Linked DNA regions of Homo sapiens: region 2 is linked to region 1. Evidence: fine-mapped expression QTL. A gene starts in region 1. The other region holds a variant in brackets. All regions are shown on one strand. Distances are between the middles of the regions. Region 1 holds the start of NAALADL1 (N-acetylated alpha-linked acidic dipeptidase like 1). Region 2 holds the start of SNX15 (sorting nexin 15).

The links. PIP is the estimated chance that this variant, and not a neighbour inherited with it, causes the effect.
Region 2: its variant is fine-mapped to the expression of NAALADL1 in whole blood (TOPMed, PIP above 0.99).

The regions. Positions count from the first base shown.
Region 1 is chr11:65,054,932-65,063,563 of GRCh38, forward strand. It overlaps NAALADL1 (N-acetylated alpha-linked acidic dipeptidase like 1), which reads right to left and starts at 3,622. Exons shown (of 18, transcript NM_005468.3): 1 at 3,406-3,622; 2 at 3,147-3,319; 3 at 2,944-3,065; 4 at 2,440-2,562. The coding sequence starts at 3,590. It also overlaps a transcript of CDCA5 not described here.
Region 2 is chr11:65,023,496-65,032,127 of GRCh38, forward strand. It overlaps SNX15 (sorting nexin 15), which reads left to right and starts at 3,944. Exons shown (of 8, transcript NM_013306.5): 1 at 3,944-4,141. The coding sequence starts at 4,043. It overlaps ARL2-SNX15 (ARL2-SNX15 readthrough (NMD candidate)), which reads left to right. Exons shown (of 11, transcript NR_037650.2): 4 at 3,823-4,141. It also overlaps the pseudogene EEF1A1P18. RefSeq lists an enhancer at 3,762-4,056 and a silencer at 3,906-4,075. The variant TTA/T (reference allele first, on the strand shown) is at 4,285.

The DNA of each region.
Region 1 (8,632 bases):
TATCAGTGGAGTCTGGTTGAATAACAGGGACATCCTACAGTGGAATACCATGAAGCTGCATAAAATAACACAGTTGTGTACTCATGTCCACAGCAGCATTATCCTCAACGGCCAAAAGGAGGAAATAGCCCAAGTGTCCATCAACAGATGAATGGCTAAACCAAATGTGGGCTGTAACATACAATGGAGGCCGGGTGGGGTGGCTCACGCCTGTAATCCCAACACTTTGGGAGGCTGAGGCAGGCAGATCACCTGAGGTGGGATCACCTGAGGTCAAGACCAGCAGGTAGATCACCTGAGGTCAAGACCAGCCTGGCCAACATGGTGAAACCTTGTCTCTACTAAAAATACAGAAATTAGCCAGGTGTGGTGGTACACACCTGTAGTCCCAGCTATTTGGGAGGCTGAGGCACGAGAATCGCCTGAACCTGGGAGGTGGAGGTTGCAGTGAGCTGAGATCATGCCACTGCACTCCAGCCTAGGTGACAGAGCAAGACTCTGTCTCAAAAAAACCCCAACAAACAAACAAACAAAAAACAATGGAATATTATTCAGCCTAAAAAGAAAGAAAGTTCTGATACATCAATGAGCCTTGAAGATGTTATGTTAAGTGAAATAAGCCAGACATAAAAAGACAAATATCTTATACTTTCACTTATGCGAGGTACCTAGAATAGGCAAATTCATAGAGACAGAAAGTAGAATTGAGGTTACAGAAAATAGAATAGGGGCTGGGGCAGGGACCTGGGGAGTTATTGTTAAATAAAGTTTCTGTTTGAAATGATGAAAAGGTTCTGGAAATGGGTAGTGGTGATGGTTAATTAATAATCTGTGTATTTCTACACTGCTTGTTCCCCTTTCTTTTTCTTTTCCTTTTTTCCCTTTCTTTTCTTCCTTCCTTTCTCTCCACCTTCCTTCTTTCTTTCTCTTTTCCCAGCTCTTATTATGGACACCTTTTTTTTTTTTTTTTTGAGATGAGGTCTTGCTCTTGTCCCCCAGGCTGGAGTGCAATGGCATGATCTCGGCTCACTGCAACCTCTGCCTCCTGGGTTCAAGTGATTCTGCTGCCTCAACCTCTGAGTAGCTGGGATTACAGGTGCCTGCCACCATGAGCGGCTATTTTTTGTATTTTTAGTAGAGACAGGGTTTCACCATGTTGGCCAGGCTGGTCTCGAACTCCTGACCTCAGGTAATCCACCTGCCTTGGCCTCCGAAAGTGCTGGGATTACAGGCATGAGCCACCGCGTCCAGCCCACTTTTAAAAAAATTGTGGTAAAATACACATAACATAAACTTAGCATGTGGAGTATGCAGTTCAGTGGCATTCAGTACATCCATATTGTGCAACATCACCACCATTCATCTCTAGAACTCTTCATCTGACAAATCCGAAACTCGGTCCCCATTAAATACCAACTATCCCTTCCCCTCTCTCATTCTACTCTTTTTATATTAATTTTGTTTGTTTGTTTGTTTTTTGTTTTTAGAGATGGAGTCTCGCTCTGTCACCCAGGCTGGAGTGCAGTGGCACAATCTTGGCTCACTGCAACCTCCACCTCCTGGGTTCAAGCAATTCTCCTGCCTCAGCCTCCTGAGTAGCTAGGACTACAGGTGCACGCTGCCACACCCAGCTAATTTTTGTTTTTTTGTATTTTAGTAGAGATGGGGTTTCACCGTGTTGCCCAGGCTGGTCTTGAACTCCTGAACTCAGGCAATCCGCCTGCCTTGGCCCCGCAAAGTGCTAGGATTACAAGCGTGAGCCACCACGCCCATGCCCAGCCTTTTTTTTTTTTTTTTTTTTTTTAAATCAGAGTCTCGATGTCTCCCAGGCTGGAGAGTGCAGTGGTGCAATCTCAGCTCACTACCATCTCTGCCTCCCAGGTTCAAGCAGTTCATCTGCCTGAGCCTCCCCAGTAGCTGGGATTACAGGCATGCACCACCATGTGTGGCTAATTTTGTATTTTGAGTAGAGATGGAGTTTCACCATGTTGGCCAGGCTGGCCTTGATCTCCTGACCTCAGGTGATCTGCCCACTTCGGCCTCCCAAAGTGCTGGGATTATAGGCGTGAGCCACAGCGCCCGGCCCCTAGTCAGAATTTTTGATGGAAAAGAAATGGCAGGGAGAGGGCCAACAGGAGGGACTTAAGTTGAATATTCAAAACTATTTCACAGGAGGACTTAGACTTCTGGAATACCAAACCTGAAAATTGTACTCAACCCCTTTATTTCCTACAGCTCAGAGAGGGTCAGGGAGGCATCCGAGGCCACACAGCCCATTGGTGGGACAACCCGAAAACACCTTGCCTTTCCTGCCCCACCCTGGGGCTTGGTTCCCCACTCAACACTGCCTCTTCTCCTTCCCCTTCCCCTCACTTCCTCCAGTCCACTGCCCAGCCCCTTCCTCACCGAGGCCTCCTGCACTGGGGGACTGCCACTCACCTTGGCCCCACGCCCTACACCCCCATATCGAGTCAGGGCAATGGTGCCTTCAAGTTTGATGCCCTGAGTCTGTAGCTCCTTAAAGTCTTCTTCCGCGCCCCGGTTGGCATAGACGAGGAGGCCCTAGTCCCAAGAGGGGGTGATCCTTAGAGCTGGGCCCAGCGAAGTGTGGGTGGGGAAGGGGGGTGGAAGTTTGCATGGCAGGAGGGAGAATTTAGATTCTGTTCCCCCACCTCACCCAGAGCTTGTAAGCTCCCCAAGAACAGTCACCCCTCATTTCCTCCATGTCTGGGTGCCCTGTAACAGACCTGGCCTTGAGCAGAGCCACTAGTGTTTGTTGAATGACTGATGGAGGAAAGGAGCAGCGATGGAGTGTCCCGGTGAGTAAATTCCGGAGGGCGCGCTGTGCCCCAGTTGAGGCACGTTCCCTGGGTCAGGGTGGGGAGAACCCTGGGTGGAACCAAGGGAGCTGGGCCAGAGCAGTAGGGGGGGTTCTGGGCCCACCTGTGGGGTTCCAGAAGGAGCATAGGCAGCATAGGGTTGTACCACATCTGGCCCCCCTTGCTCCCCGGTCACGTTCTCCTCAGTCCGGTGGCAGGAGTGGATGATGCCCCCAGTGGGGCCCACTGTTGGAGGGGTGGCAGTATCATGGCTGGGCCCAGCAGCTCCCCACCCCCGGGCATTCCCAAGACTGGGCAGGACCTCACCGATGTCCACGACGTTGGGCTGCTCCTGGCTAGGGAAGGACAGCAGCACTTCGTACGTGGAGGCCTCGGCCGAGTCCAGGCCTGACTCTGGGTCCTTCCAGCGCTGCAGCAGCAGCTGCACCAGGTCCTCATCCCGAGGGCTGGAGGCCAGGTGTGGCTCCCTGGAGAGTTCTCTGCAGGGTGGGCAGAGGGAGGGGCAGGGCCAGCATCAGGGAGGGGGCCTCTGGCAAACGGAGGAGCAGATGGCCCCACTTCTCACCTGAGGTTCTCCCGGATCCTGTGGGCATCCAGCTGCCCCATGACGGTCTCCAGGATCTCCAGGTCCAGGTCCTGGGGGGCCAGTGAGTTGGCTTTTTTGGGGATGGCAAAGTGGCCGAGGATGATCCCCAGCCCCAAGAGGGCAGCAGCCCCCAGCCCCAGCCCCAACACCTTCGTCCACTGCATCCTGCGGACTCTTGGCCAGCTGGGGTAGGACTGGTCTATAGGTTATTCCCTATAGAGGGGGTGTTGTGCCTGGTTAAACATTACCCCATGGGTGGCACTGCCCTTTGACCCCCAGCTGGCAGGGAGAGTGAGGGAACATCCCGCAGTGAGAGCCAGGAGCCATCCACATCCACCACATCCTGCACCATTTGCCTGGAATGGCTCTCCAAGGGCAGCAAGGTCACCCAGGGACACTGAAGCCGAGAGGGAAGGGGCTCATCCAGGGTGTCCCAGGAAAACAGAGGCCAAGCCAGGGCTGGAACTCAGAGCTCCTGTGTTCACAGCAGGGCCGTGCCCACTGCCCACCCTCACTGCCTCTGCCTCCCTCCAAGGCAGCCGATCTACAGCATACCCAGCCCTACCTGCCTGAGCAGATTTTGAGTTGAGATCCCCCTTCTTGCTGGACGTAAGCTGTGTGACCTTGGGCAATCCACTCAGCTTCTCTACACCTGTTTTCTTTTTTTTTTTTCTAGACTGTGTCTTCCACTGACACCCAGGCTGGAGTCCAGTGGTGTGATCTCGGCTCACTGCAACCTCCACCTCCCGGGCTCAAGTGATTCTCCTGCATCGGCCTCCCGAGTAGCTGGGATTACGGGTGTGCACCACCATGTCCAGCTAATTTTTGTATTTTTAGTAGAGATGGGGTTTCACCATGTTGGCCAGGCTGGTCTCAAACTCCTGATCTCAGGTGATCACCCGCCTCAGCCTCCCAAAGTGCTGGGATGACAGGAGTGAGCCACCGTGCCGGCTATGGTGTCATTTTCATTAAACAATATGGCATCTGTAGAAATAGCTAGTGCAGTGTCTGACATGTAGTGGGAGCTCATCAATTTTAACTACTCATCCCTCATCTGACTCTGGAAAATGTAAGGCCTAGAGCTAAAGGAAGAAGGAGGACCCAGAAGAACTCTCTGTGTCTATCCTGAAGGGAGCCCAGCGATACGAGGAATGGGAGTCCTGGGAAGGGAGGCTGTCCCAGAGGAGGCAGCAGGGGAAGCCCATGCCTCCCTGGCGAGGTGACTTCCTCTTCTATCCCCTGGCTCTGCCTGGACTCCGTCATCCACCCTCCTATTTATCCATCCACCCATCCCTCCATTCACTTATTCATTCCTTCCTTTATACATGCAAGCACTGTTCATTCTGTGCTATACTAGAGCCATGCAAGGCTGTGGGGAAGCAAAATCCAGCAGGCGAGGCAGACAGGCTTTAGGTTCAGCCATGTGGTAAGTGCCCTGTAGAGGGAGGATCACCATGCTCCCAGTGAAAGAGTGAGGAGTTCTGACTAGGAGGGAACATCTGAGGGGGTCCTCCAAGGCTGAAAAGGTGTTCCAGCATTTGCAAGGGCTGAGAGGGAAGTGAGACCCCAAGTATGCCATACACATACTGAGCCTCTTCCAGACCTCACGGAGAGCCAGGAGGGGCTGGGGGGGTCCCTAGGGACTTGAGCTGGGACTTCTCCCACCCTCCCATGGCCTATCCTGCCTTGACTCTGCCTCGCAGGTTGCAGCCCATGGATGGGCTCAAAGATGCCTGCAGAGCTTGGGGGCTGGATCAGGGCAGAGCGTGTGTGTGTGTGTGTGTGTGTGTGCACGTGCATGTGTGTGTGTGTGATTTCACAGACCCCTCTCAGAGCAGCCTCCTTCCTGCTCACAACCCCATTTTGCTGGCACCACCATCTCTTGTGCTGCTGGTGAGGAGGTTCAGCATGGGAGGACTAGGGGTGGCTGGGAAGGGATGTCATGTGATCAGTGACTTCAGGGAGGTGCACCAGGAAGCCACAGTTCTTGGCAACGTGATTATCGACGCCCAGAATATGACCTTGGATCTTATCAGAAGCCCATCGGTGCAGGGAGCATACACCTTCCTTATGAGGACACAGGACAGTCACCACCAGGTGGGGAGTGGGATGCCAAGGTCAGCTGATAAGTTGAGGGACTGAGGCAGCAACCCCATGGTCCTACCCCACCCACTCCTGGAAGGATTTAACCCCTCAATCATGTGAAGTCACAAACAGGACGCCTGGACAAAAGTGTGTGACATCTGAGTGATAACACCTGGGACTGTGGTTTGTGTTGGAGAGTGTGTAAACAGCTGTGTGTGTGACACCCAAGAGATCCACTCAGGCTGTTGGAATCCACTGGTGTCTACATGGCTGTAGGCACCAGACGTTAACTTAGTCAATTTTCTTTCCTTCATCTTTGCTGTGTGGGTGGTATGGCCCCTCCCAGAACATTCTGGATTGTGGGAGTTCCTAGAAATAACTTACGGTAGTTAGAGCACATGAACACCTTTCATTTTCCTGCCTTATTCTCCCAATGGCTCTGGGTCCAAGGGGTCTTCAATCCTCCAGGACCAGCAATGCACTGCTGCTGGCTCCCTCCCCACTCTCCACCTGCCCCACACACTTGCCTCCGTCCCACCCTCCTTCACCTCCCACGTGTACTCACCTTGCCCAGTTTGAGGCCCTGGAAGCCCTCTTAACCCCCAATCCTCTCTGCTTTGGTCACATCCACTGGGAAAACACCATTCTGGTTACTTCTGACTCACTTTCTGCTTCTTCTGCGCCTGCACCCTTGCCCCTGGATGTGCCTGCAGAGTCACGTGGCCTCCCGGACACCATGTTGTGAAGACACTCAAGCAGCCCTGTGGACAGGCCTCATGGTGAGGCGCTAAAGCCTCCTGCCAACATTCAGCACTAACTTGCCAGCCCTGTGAATAAACCAACTTGGAAATGGGTCCTCCAGCACCAGCCAAGCCGTCAGAATACAGCGGCCCCTGCTGGAATCTTGACTGCAGCCTCACGAGAGTCCCTCAGCCAGTACCACCCAACCAAGCCACTTTCAGATTCTTAACCTGTGGACACTGTGTGAGATAATACATGTTTATGGTTTTGGGCTACTAGGTTTTGGAGTGATTATAACCGAGCAAAATAGGCCAGGCGCGGTGGCTCACGCCTATAATCCCAGCACTTTGGGAGGCGGAGACGTGCGGATCATGAGGTGAGGAGATCAAGACCATCCTGGCTAACATGGTGAAAGCCCGTCTCTACTCAAAATACAAAAAAATTAGCCGGGCGTGGTGGCGGGCACCTGTAGTCCCAGCTACTCTGGAGGCTGAGGCAGGAGAATGGCGTGAACCTGGGAGGCAGAGCTTGCAGTGAGCCGAGATAGCGCCACTGCACTCCAGCCTGGGTGACAGAGTGAGACTCCGTCTCAAGAAAAAAAAAAAAAAAAAACAAAAAAAACCACAGCAAAATGGAGAACCAATACAAATGACTAAATATAGACCAGAAACCCGCAAGTATATGTCTCCAATCTAACCCATCCCCGAACTCTTGTATTTCCAGCTGCCTAATTTTTTTTTTTTTTTTTTTTTTTGAGACAGAGTTTCGCTTTTGTTGCCCAGGCTGGAGTGCAATGGCGCGATCTCGGCTCACCGCAACCTCTGCCTCCCAGGTTCAAGTGATTCTCCTGCCTCAGCCTCCTGAGTAGCCGGGATCACAGGCATGCGCCACCATGCCCAGCTAATTTTGTGTTTTTAGTAAAGATAGGGTTTCTCCATGTTGGTCAGGCTGGTCTCAAACTCCCAACCTCAGGTGATCCGCCCGCCTTGGCCTCCCAAAGTGCTGGGATTACAGGCGAGAGCCACCGTGCCCAGCCTGCAGTGGCCTCTTAACTGGCCTCTCTGATTGTATTCTTGTCCCCTCTAGTTTTTTTCTCTACATAGCAGTCAGACTCATCTTTGTGAAACCCAGGTCCGCCATGTCACGACCGTGCTCACAGCCCTCCAAGTCTCCCTTTACACTCAGAGTAACAGTCATGACAGTGGCCATAGAGCCCTTCATGTCTCAGACCCGGTCCCCTCCCTGTCCTCCTCACTCACGGCTCCTGTAGCTCTGGCCTGCTACTGTCCCCTGAGCCTACCAGGCACACTCCTGACTCAGTGCCTTTGTGTTGGCAGCTCCCGCTCCCTAGAACCCTGCTCCCCAGCTGTCCACAGGGCTCCTTCCCTCAGGTCCTTTGTGTCTTTGCTCAAATGTCACTTCTCAATGAGCTCTTCCCTGACTACTCTATCTGAAATTGCATTCCTGGCTGGGTGCAGTGGCTCATACCTATAATCCCAACACTTTGGGAGGCTGAGGCAGGAAGATCGCTTGAGTCCAGAAGTTCAAGACCAGCCTGGGCAACATAGTGAGAATCCATGTTTAAAAATACATAAATAAAATAAAATTGCATTCCTCCCCCTCCCTCAGGCTTCCTCTTCCTCTGTGGCTTCATTTTTCTCCATTGCATCTATCCTCATGTTACTTGTTCATTATTTCTTGCTGCCCCTCCCAGAGCGTAAGTTCTACCAGGGCAGACATCTTTGTTTTATTCACTGCCGAAGCCCCAGAGTCCAGAGCAGTGCCCGGCACCTATGAGGCACTCAACAAGTATTTGTAGATTGGAGGCAAAGCTGACCTACGCCAGCACAGCAACTCAACACTCCTGCTCCAGCTGTCTTCTGTCCAAGGGGTGTTCAGAGCAATAAGAGATGTAAAAGGTGGGCACGAGACCCCTGGGAAGCAGATCCCCTCTGGGTAAGCCCCACCAGACTGCCAAGGCAGCCATGCATAGGACACCTGCGTAACAGGCGCAGGTGCCCTCACAAGATGGGGATGGGATCTAACAGACTTTCAGTGCTGGGTGTTCCCAAAGGATGACGTTGCAGGATGGAGGAAGGCCCTGCCAGGCTGCAGGGTCTGGCCACCCTCTTGGGCAGGAATACCAGGCCCTTTAGTGGGGAAGGGAGCCTGCTGGGAACACTGGTACTCAGAGCTGCTCCCACTGGGCCTGCAAAGCCAGTTTGGGGGCCAGGGTAGATCCACTGGAGATCAGATAACAGTCGCCAACACATGGAATGCACCAAGTCCACACAAAATCATTCATCCTCCGAGGTGGACACAGTGGAACCCCATGTTACAGATGAAGATGTGTGTCCAGGCACTCAGTCAAGGTCACACC
Region 2 (8,632 bases), 31 kb before region 1:
GGGAGGTACTATGCCTGGATGTGCACGTAGGCCAGATTTATGTTTCTCTCTGCCCAAACATCTCAGTGGAATAAAGAATAACAAGGCAGCATTGCTGCCAACATGTCTTGCCTCCCACCATAGGGCGGTTTTTCTCCTATCTCAGAATTGAACAAATGTACAATCTGGTTTTATACCGAGACATTCAGTTCCCAGGTGCAGGCAGGAGATAGTGGCCTTCCTCTATCTCAAGTGCAAGAGGCTTTCCTCTTTTACTAACCCACGTCAGCACAGACCCTTTATGGGTATCGGGCTGGGGGACGGTCAGGTCTTTCTCATCCCACGAGGCCATATTTCAGACTCTCACATGGGGAGAAACCTTGGACAATATCCGGCTTTCCAGGACAGAGGTCCCTGCAGCTTTCCACAGTGCATTGTGCCCCTGGTTTATTGAGACTAGAGAATGGCGATGACTTTTACCAAGCATACTGCCTGTAAACATTTTGTTAACAAGGCACGTCCTGCACAGCCCTAGACCTTAAACCTTGATTCCAAGGCCGGGCGTGGTGGCTCACGCCTGTAATCTCAGCACTTTGGGAGGCCGAGGCAGGCGAATCATGAGGTCAGGAGATTGAGACCATCCTGGCTAACACGGTGAAACCCCGTCTCTACTAAAAATACAAAAAATTAGCCAGGTGTGGTGGTGGGCGCCTATAGTCCCAGCTACTCGGGAGGCTGAGGCAGGAGAATGGCATGAACCCAGGAGGCGGAGCTTGCAGTGAGCCGAGATGGCGCCACTGCACTCCAGCCTGGGCGACAGAGCGAGACTCCATCTCAAAAAAAAAAAAAAAAAACACCTTCATTCCATACAACACATGTTTTTGTGAGCTCAAGGTTGGGGCAAAGGGGTTGGGGCAAAGTGGCTGGGGCAAAGTTACAGATTAACAGCATCTCAGGGCAAAGCAATTGTTCAGGGTACAGGTCAAGATGAAATTTCTTCTATCTTCCCTTTCTACATAGATACAGTAACAGTCTGATCTCTCTTTTCCCTACACTGTTCTAAGTACTACCCATTCCATTCAGCAATACAGTTAGGGACAGCCCTATGCAGTGCCGCCTATCAGGATCCTCTCTTATATGGGACACTAAGGGGTGGCACTGGCGTGGCACTGTACAGAGAGCTCAGGTGCCCCGGGGAACAGATAAGCTCTCCCAGGGGCCGGGGAGGCTTCCTGGATGGGCTGACCCTTGAGCAGGGAGGGAAGGGTCTGCGGTCACTGGCCACCACCAGCACCTTTGTTCTCCCAAGCCCTGCATCTGGACTCTCTGCAGCCACCACTGGTACGTCAAGGGCTGCAGCCCCACTGCTGGGGAGAACCCACTGCCTGGCATTGACTGGCTCCTGGATGACATTTCCTCCAGAAGGTTAAGTGCAATCTCTGCCTGCCGGGTTCAAGCAACTCTCCTGCCCCATTCTCCCGAGTAGCTGGGATTATAGGCACCCGACACCACACCTGGCTAATTTTTGTATTTTTAGTAGAGATGGGGTTTCATCATGTTGGCCAGGCTGGTCTTGAACTCCTGATATCAAGTAATCCGCCCGACTTGGCCTCCCAAAGTGCTGGGATTACAGGCATGAGCCACTGCACCTGGCCCCCAGCTAATTTTTAAATTTCTCATGAAATCAGAGGCAGCCTGTTGCCCAGGCTGGTCTTGAACTCCTGGCCTCAAGTGATCCTCCCGCCTTGGCTTCCCAAAGTGCTGGGATTACAGGCATGAGCCCCATGCCAGGCTTTGCTTCTTTCTGAAGACCAAGGCACCGCACCTGTACACCTGAATTCCAGGAACAAGAGTGGCTATTCACAATGCTTCCTCTGCAGTAAATACTATGTGTTGTATGTAAGCCTACCAACTTCATGCTGCATTTCAACAGATTTTTGCTTCAATTCTAACACTGACTGGAGCAAAGGTCTCAAAACCCATGCCAGGTTTGGGAACACCAGTCTCCACGTGGCCCACACTGACAGTACCAATACCACCAATTTTGTGGACGTCTGGAGGGGCAGAACCAAGAGCTTGTGAGTTGGTGGTAGGATGTGATCTAGAGCTTCCGAGCAGCGTGGTTCCACAGCATCGCCATCTTTACAGGTGACTTTCCATCCCTTGAGCCAAGGCATGTGAGCTCTTGGCTCCCGCCTGTTGTGACCACTCCAACCAGATATTGGCACAAATACTACTATGTCAGAGTTGTAGCCAATTTCTTAATGTAGGTGCTGATTTCCTTAATGATTTCTCCCATCTCTCCTTTTTTTTTTTTTTTTTTTTTTGAGACGGAGTCTCACTCTGTCCTCTGTCTCCCAGGCTGGAGTGCAGTGGCACGATCTCAGCTCACTGCAACCTCTGCCTCCTGGTTTCAGGCAATTCTCTGCCTCAGCCTCCCAAGTAGCTGGGATTACAGGCACCCGCCACCATGCCCAGCTAATTTTTGTATTTTTAGTAGAGACGGGGTTTCACCATCTTGGTCAGGCTGGTCTTGAACTCCTGACTTCCTAATCCACCCACCTCTGCCTCCCAAACTGCTGGGATTACAGGCGTGAGCCACCACGCCCGGCCCCCATCTCTCCTCTTTAGGGTGGCTCATTGGGATCCATTTTGTTAACACCAACAATTAGTTTCACACCCAGCGTGTAAGACAGAAGGGTGTGCTCACGCGTCTGCCCATTCTTGGAATTACCAGCTTCAAATTCATCAACACCAGCAGCAACAATCAGGACAGCACAATTAGCCTGAGGTCAGGTTTTTGATAAAGTCTCTGCATCCTGGGCCATTGAGGATGGTCACATAGTACTTGCTGGTCTCAATTGCCAGCAGGGAGGTATCAGTGGTGATACCACTCTCACGTTCAACTTTCAGCTTACCCAAGACCCAGGTATGCTTGAAGGAGCCCTTTCCCATCTCAGCAGCTTCCTCAAAATTGTCGATGGTTCTTTTGTGGATCCCACCACACTTGTAGATCAGATGGCCAGTAGTGCTGGACTTGCCCAAATCAGATGATGATGTTGAGCTGAGTCTTTTCCCTCCCCTGCTCCCTTTCTTTTGAGATGGAGTCTCACTCTGTTGCCCAGGCTGGAGTGCAGTGGTGTGATTGCAGCTCACTGCAGCCTCAACCTCCTGGGCTGAAGCCATCAGCCAGCTCAGCCCCTGGAGTAGCTGGAATTACAGGCGTGCGCCACCACGCCCAGCTAATTTTTGTATTTTTAGTAGAAACGGGGTTTCACCATGTTGGCCAGGCTGGTCTTGAACTCCTGACCTCAAGTGATCCACCTGCCTCCACTGCCCAAAATGCTGGGATTACAGGCGTGAACCACCGCGCCAAACCCCCATTTTGGCTTTGATTTAACGGTGGTTTTCACGACACCTGTGTTCTGGCAGCAAACCCATCGCAAAAAAGCTCCACTGCCCTACACAGATTCTATTATAAACATCTCCATTCTACAGATGAGAAACTGAGGCTGAGTAGTTAAGGGAAACTCCTACAGCTAGTAAGAGTCGTGACTCAGAGCCCATGACACCATCCTGCTTCTCCAACCTTCTTTGCTTCCTCTACTTTCCAGAAAACATGAATTAGGGAATCCTGTGGAGGGAGACAGGGAAATAATTTGACGTTGTCCTGTACATACTGGACACAATAAGAGTTGGGTGGATGAACGAAAGCAGGGATTTAGGAAGCGGGGAGAAGTCGTTTGGAAGTCTGTGACAAGGGTTTACGCTTGGATAGGGTGGGCTTGATCACCCGGCAGAAATGAGACGAGTGATCCCAGCCTTCCCAACCAATCTTTCCAGTGACCTGGGTTTACGCTTCACCACAGAGAAGGAACTTTTCAGACGCTCCCTTGGCCGCGCACCCGGGATCGGAACAGCGCTGTCACTTGCGACAAAATCCCTAGGCCAGAGGAAGAAGAGCGCAGGCCTGGCGAGGCGGCGGCGGGCGGAGGCTGGGCCGGAGGGGTGGGGACGGCGAGGAGGTGGAGGCCGGCGCTCCGCTCCGCTCCAGCTCGGTTTCATGTCCCGCCAGGCGAAGGATGACTTCCTGCGGCACTACACAGTGTCGGACCCCAGGACTCACCCCAAGGGCTACACCGAGTACAAAGTAACCGCGCAGGTGAGGTGGGGCCCAGCGCGTACTTTACCCTTTTAACTAGAGGGGCGCCGAGTTTTACCTTAAGGAAAGGCGGTGCAGCCACTGCTCCCTTTTTAGACGACAGAAATGGGTTTCCCCTTTAAGGGGAGGTTGCAGTACGAGGC[TTA/T]GTTTACATCTTTAACCACCAGGGGGCGGGGTCCTGGGTGGGCGCTGTCTTTTTTAAAAGGGCGTTGACGGCCGTTCCCGGACAGGCAAGGCGTGTATGCCCACGCCCGGAGTGTAGTGTCTGGGCATCAGGCTGTGAATTTCTCTAAATTAACATGAAAACTCTGGTTTAATCCAAATATTAGTACTCCATTCTCGTAGAGTAAGTTTTGTTTATTGGTTTGTTTGATGTTACATAAACTCCCTTTAACGAGTTTAACCATTTTTAATTTTTCAAAAAATAATACTGATCAGTGGTTGAAAAAAATTGATGCAGTTCAGAAGGACTTAAGGAGTAAGTCGCCATATCAAGGTCACAGCAGGAAGATAGATAGGCTAGAGTTGATATATGAAGCGATAACAACATCATAAGCACAATTTATAGAGAGACATGGAGGAAACCATGACAATAATTAAAAATGAAACAGTAAAACAGGACACCTGTAGAATGATAACAAGAACTGGTAACAAGGAAGGTCCCCAGGGAGAGGAACTGTGTCACTGGGGACAGGAGTTAGGGGAAGACTTTTTACTGTAAATTTTTTGTACTTTTAGAATTTTCAACCAGGCGACTATTAAGCTGGTGCATTAGTTAACTCTAAAAGCAAAGCAGGCACATAAGGACACTTCCAAAGTGATCTAAGTGCAGAATCTTAGCTATTTAAAATATGCTTTCCCCAAACCGTTTACGTCTTTTCCATGCCTAAAAATAATGCAAATAAGGCCGGGCTCAGTGGCTCATGCCTGTAAATCCCAGCACTTTGGGAGGCTGAGGCAGCAGATTGCTTGAGCTCAGGAGCTCAAGACGAGCCTGGGCAACATAGTGAGACCCCGGATCAATATTAAAATACAGACACACACACAACTTTAAAAAAAAAAAAAAAAAAAGCAAATAAATAGATTGTCCCTGGGAAGATAGACTGGAGGTGGGGCTGGGGTGGGGAGGATGTGGCAAGGAACTGTAACCTTTTATTATAAGTCTTCCCAGTGGTGGCCGGGCGCGGTGGCTCACGCCTGTAATCCCAGCACTTTGGGAGGCCGAGGCGGGCGGATCACGAGGTCAGGAGATCGAGACCATCCTGGCTACCATGGTGAAACCCCATCTCTACTAAAAATACAAAAACTTACGGGCGTGGCAGCGTGCACCTGTAGTCCCAGGTACTCGGGAGGCTGAGGTAGAAGAATGGAGTGAACCCGGGAGGTGGAGCTTGCAGTGAGCCGAGATTGTGCCACTGCACTCCAGCCTGGGAGACAGAGCGAGACTCCGTCTCAAAAATATAAATAAATAAATAAATAAATAAATAAATAAAAATAAGTCTTCCCAGTGGCTTTTTTGTGTCGTTGTTTTGTTTTGTTTTTGAGACAGAGTCTCACTGTCGCCCAGACTGGAGTGAAGTGACTCGATCTCAGCTCACTGCAAACTTCCGTCGCCCGGGTTCAGATTCTCCCACCTCAACCTCCCAGGTAGCTGGGACTACAGGCACGCGTCACCATGCCCAGCTAATATTCGTATTTTTTGGCAGAGATGGGGTTTCACCATGTTGGCCAGAATGGTCTCGATCTCTTGACCTCATGATCCACCCGCCTTGGCCTCCCAAAGTGCTGGGATTACAGGTGTGAGCCACCACACCCGGCCTCCCATTGGCTTTTTAAACCAAGCAACATGCATTACTTTGATATATTTTTATACATATTATATAATACAATGTATTATATATAATAAATATAAAATATAAAGCACATAATATATAAATATATGTATGTATATATTTTTTGAGACGGAGTCTTGCTCTGTCGCCCAGGCTGGAGTACAGTGGTGTGATCTCAGCTCACTGTAGCCTCCACCTCCTGGGTTCATGCAGTTCTCCTGCTTCAGCCTCCTGAGTAGCTGGGATTATAGGCGTGTGCCACCACACCCGGCTACTTTTTGTGTTTTTAGTAGAGACGGGATTTCACTGTGTTGGCCAGGCTGGTCTCGAACTCCTGACCTCAAGTTATCCTCCCACCTCGGCCTTCCCAAGTGCTGGAATTACAGGTGTGAACCACCGCGCCTGGCCTATATTTTTATTTTATTTTATTTTATTTGCGACGGGGTCTTGCTCTGTCACCCACGCTGGTGTGCAGTGGCATGATTCACGTCTTACTGCAGCCTCAAGTTCCTGCATTCAATCCATCCTCTTGCCTCAGCCTCCTGAGTAGCTGGGACTACAAGCATGTACCACTACGCCTAGCTCAATTTTTAAATTTTTTGTAGAGGCTGGGCGTGGTGGCGCACGCCTGTAATCCCAGCACTTTGGGAGGCCAAGGCGGGTGGATCATGAGGTCAAGAGATCGAGACCATTCTGGCCAACATGGTGAAACCCCGTCTCTACTAAAAGTACAAAACGTAGCTGGGCATGGTGGCGCTCACCTGTAGTCCCAGCTACTCGGGAGGCTGAGGCAGGAGAATTGCTTGAACCCGGGAGGCAGAGGTTGCAGTGAGCCGAGATCACACCACTGCACTCCAGCCTGGTGACAGAGTGAGACTCCATCTCAAAAAAAAATTTTTTTTTTTGTAGAGACAGAGTTTTGCCATGTTGCCCAGGCTGGTCTCAAACTCCTGGCCTCAAGCAATCCTCCCATTTTGGCCTTCCAAAGTGTTAGGATTACAGGCCACCATGACCCACCGTACCTGGCCTATAATTTTTTTTTTTTTTTTGAGATGGAGTCTCACTGTGTTGCCAGGCTGGAGTGCAGTGGCATGATCTCAGCTCACTGCAACCTCTGCCTCCTGGGTTCAAGTGATTCTCCTGCCTCAGCCTCCTGAGTAGCTGGGACTACAGGCACTTGCCACCACGCCTGGCTAATTTTTGTATTTTTAGTAGAGACAGGATTTCACCATGTTGGTTGGCCAGGCTGGTCTCGAACTCCTGACCTCAAGTGATTCTCCCACCTCGGCCTCCCAAAGTGCTGGGATTACAGGCATGAGACACCACACCTGGCCACTCAATGGCTTTTAAATAGTTTCTTTTACCAGAATATTTTAGGCAAGTCTCTGTTGTCAAAAGCAAAGTCCAGGGTTTTAGTCCCAGCCATCTTTCTTACTTAGTGTGTGGTCTACTATGGCCACACCTCTCAGAGCCTCCATTTCCTCATCTCTTAAGTGGGCATGTCAATTATGTCTGCCTCAGTGGGATCTAGGATAAGAAATAGATGTTTTTATTTATTTATTTAGTGTGTGAGAGACAGGGTCTCACTCTCTCCAGGCTGGAGTGCAGTGGTGCAATCTCAGCTCACTGCAACCTCTGCTTAACATGCTCAAGTGATCCTCCCACCTCAGCCTTCTAAGTAGCTGGGACTACAGGTGTGTCACGCCACCACACCCAGCTAATTTTTTGTATTTTTTGCAGATACTGGGTGTCACTATGTTGCCCAGGCTGGCCTCAAACTCCTGGACTTAAGTGCTCTGCCCACCTGGGCCCCCTAAAGTGCTGGCATTACAGGTGTGAGCCACCGTGCCTGGCATAGGAGATGTTATTAAACTGTCAAGTACCCCAAACCATAGGACATTATTTTAAAATTATTATGAACATAACGATGAAAACTGAATCTTGTTTTCACCTCAGACCCAAGTCTGCCCTTCCAGGGACTTCAACTCCAGTGATGGTTTCTTCTGTGTCCAGGGCGCTGAAGCGCAGGATCTTCTCCCGCAGGGAAGGAGGTTCCTGAGGCAGAACCTCCCTTCTTTGGAGGCTTGGGGTTCTTTGGTTTCAGAAGTAGATGGAGGGACTTGGTCTGTTCAAGGAACTGGGATAAAAATTGGGCTGATGGCCGGGTGCTCACGCCTGTAATCCCAGCACTTTGGGAGGCTGAGGCGGGCGGATCACTTGAGGTCATGAGTTCCAGACCAGCTTGGCCAACATGGGGAAACCCCATCTCTACTAAAAATACAAACATTAGCAAGCGTGGTGGTGCATGTCTGTAGCTTCTTGGGAGGCTGAGGTAGGAAAATCGCTTGAACCCTGAAGGCAGAGGTGGCAGTGAGCCGAGAGTGTACCACTGCACTCCAGCCTGGGCGACAGAGCGAGACTCCATCTCAAAAAAAAAAAAGTTGGGCTGAGGTTGGAGCAGTCCAAATGGGCCTTTAGGGGTCCTCCTATTTGATAGATGGAGAAACTGAGGTACATAGTAGGAAAAGTTGCTAAAATTACACGCGAAGGCTTAAAGCCAGGGTGCCTTGATGCCAGAGGCCAATGGCCAAAGGCTACTGCCCCGTGAGGGGGACTAGGAGGCACCTGGGGCATTACAGGGTGAGAGGGTGTCAGATGG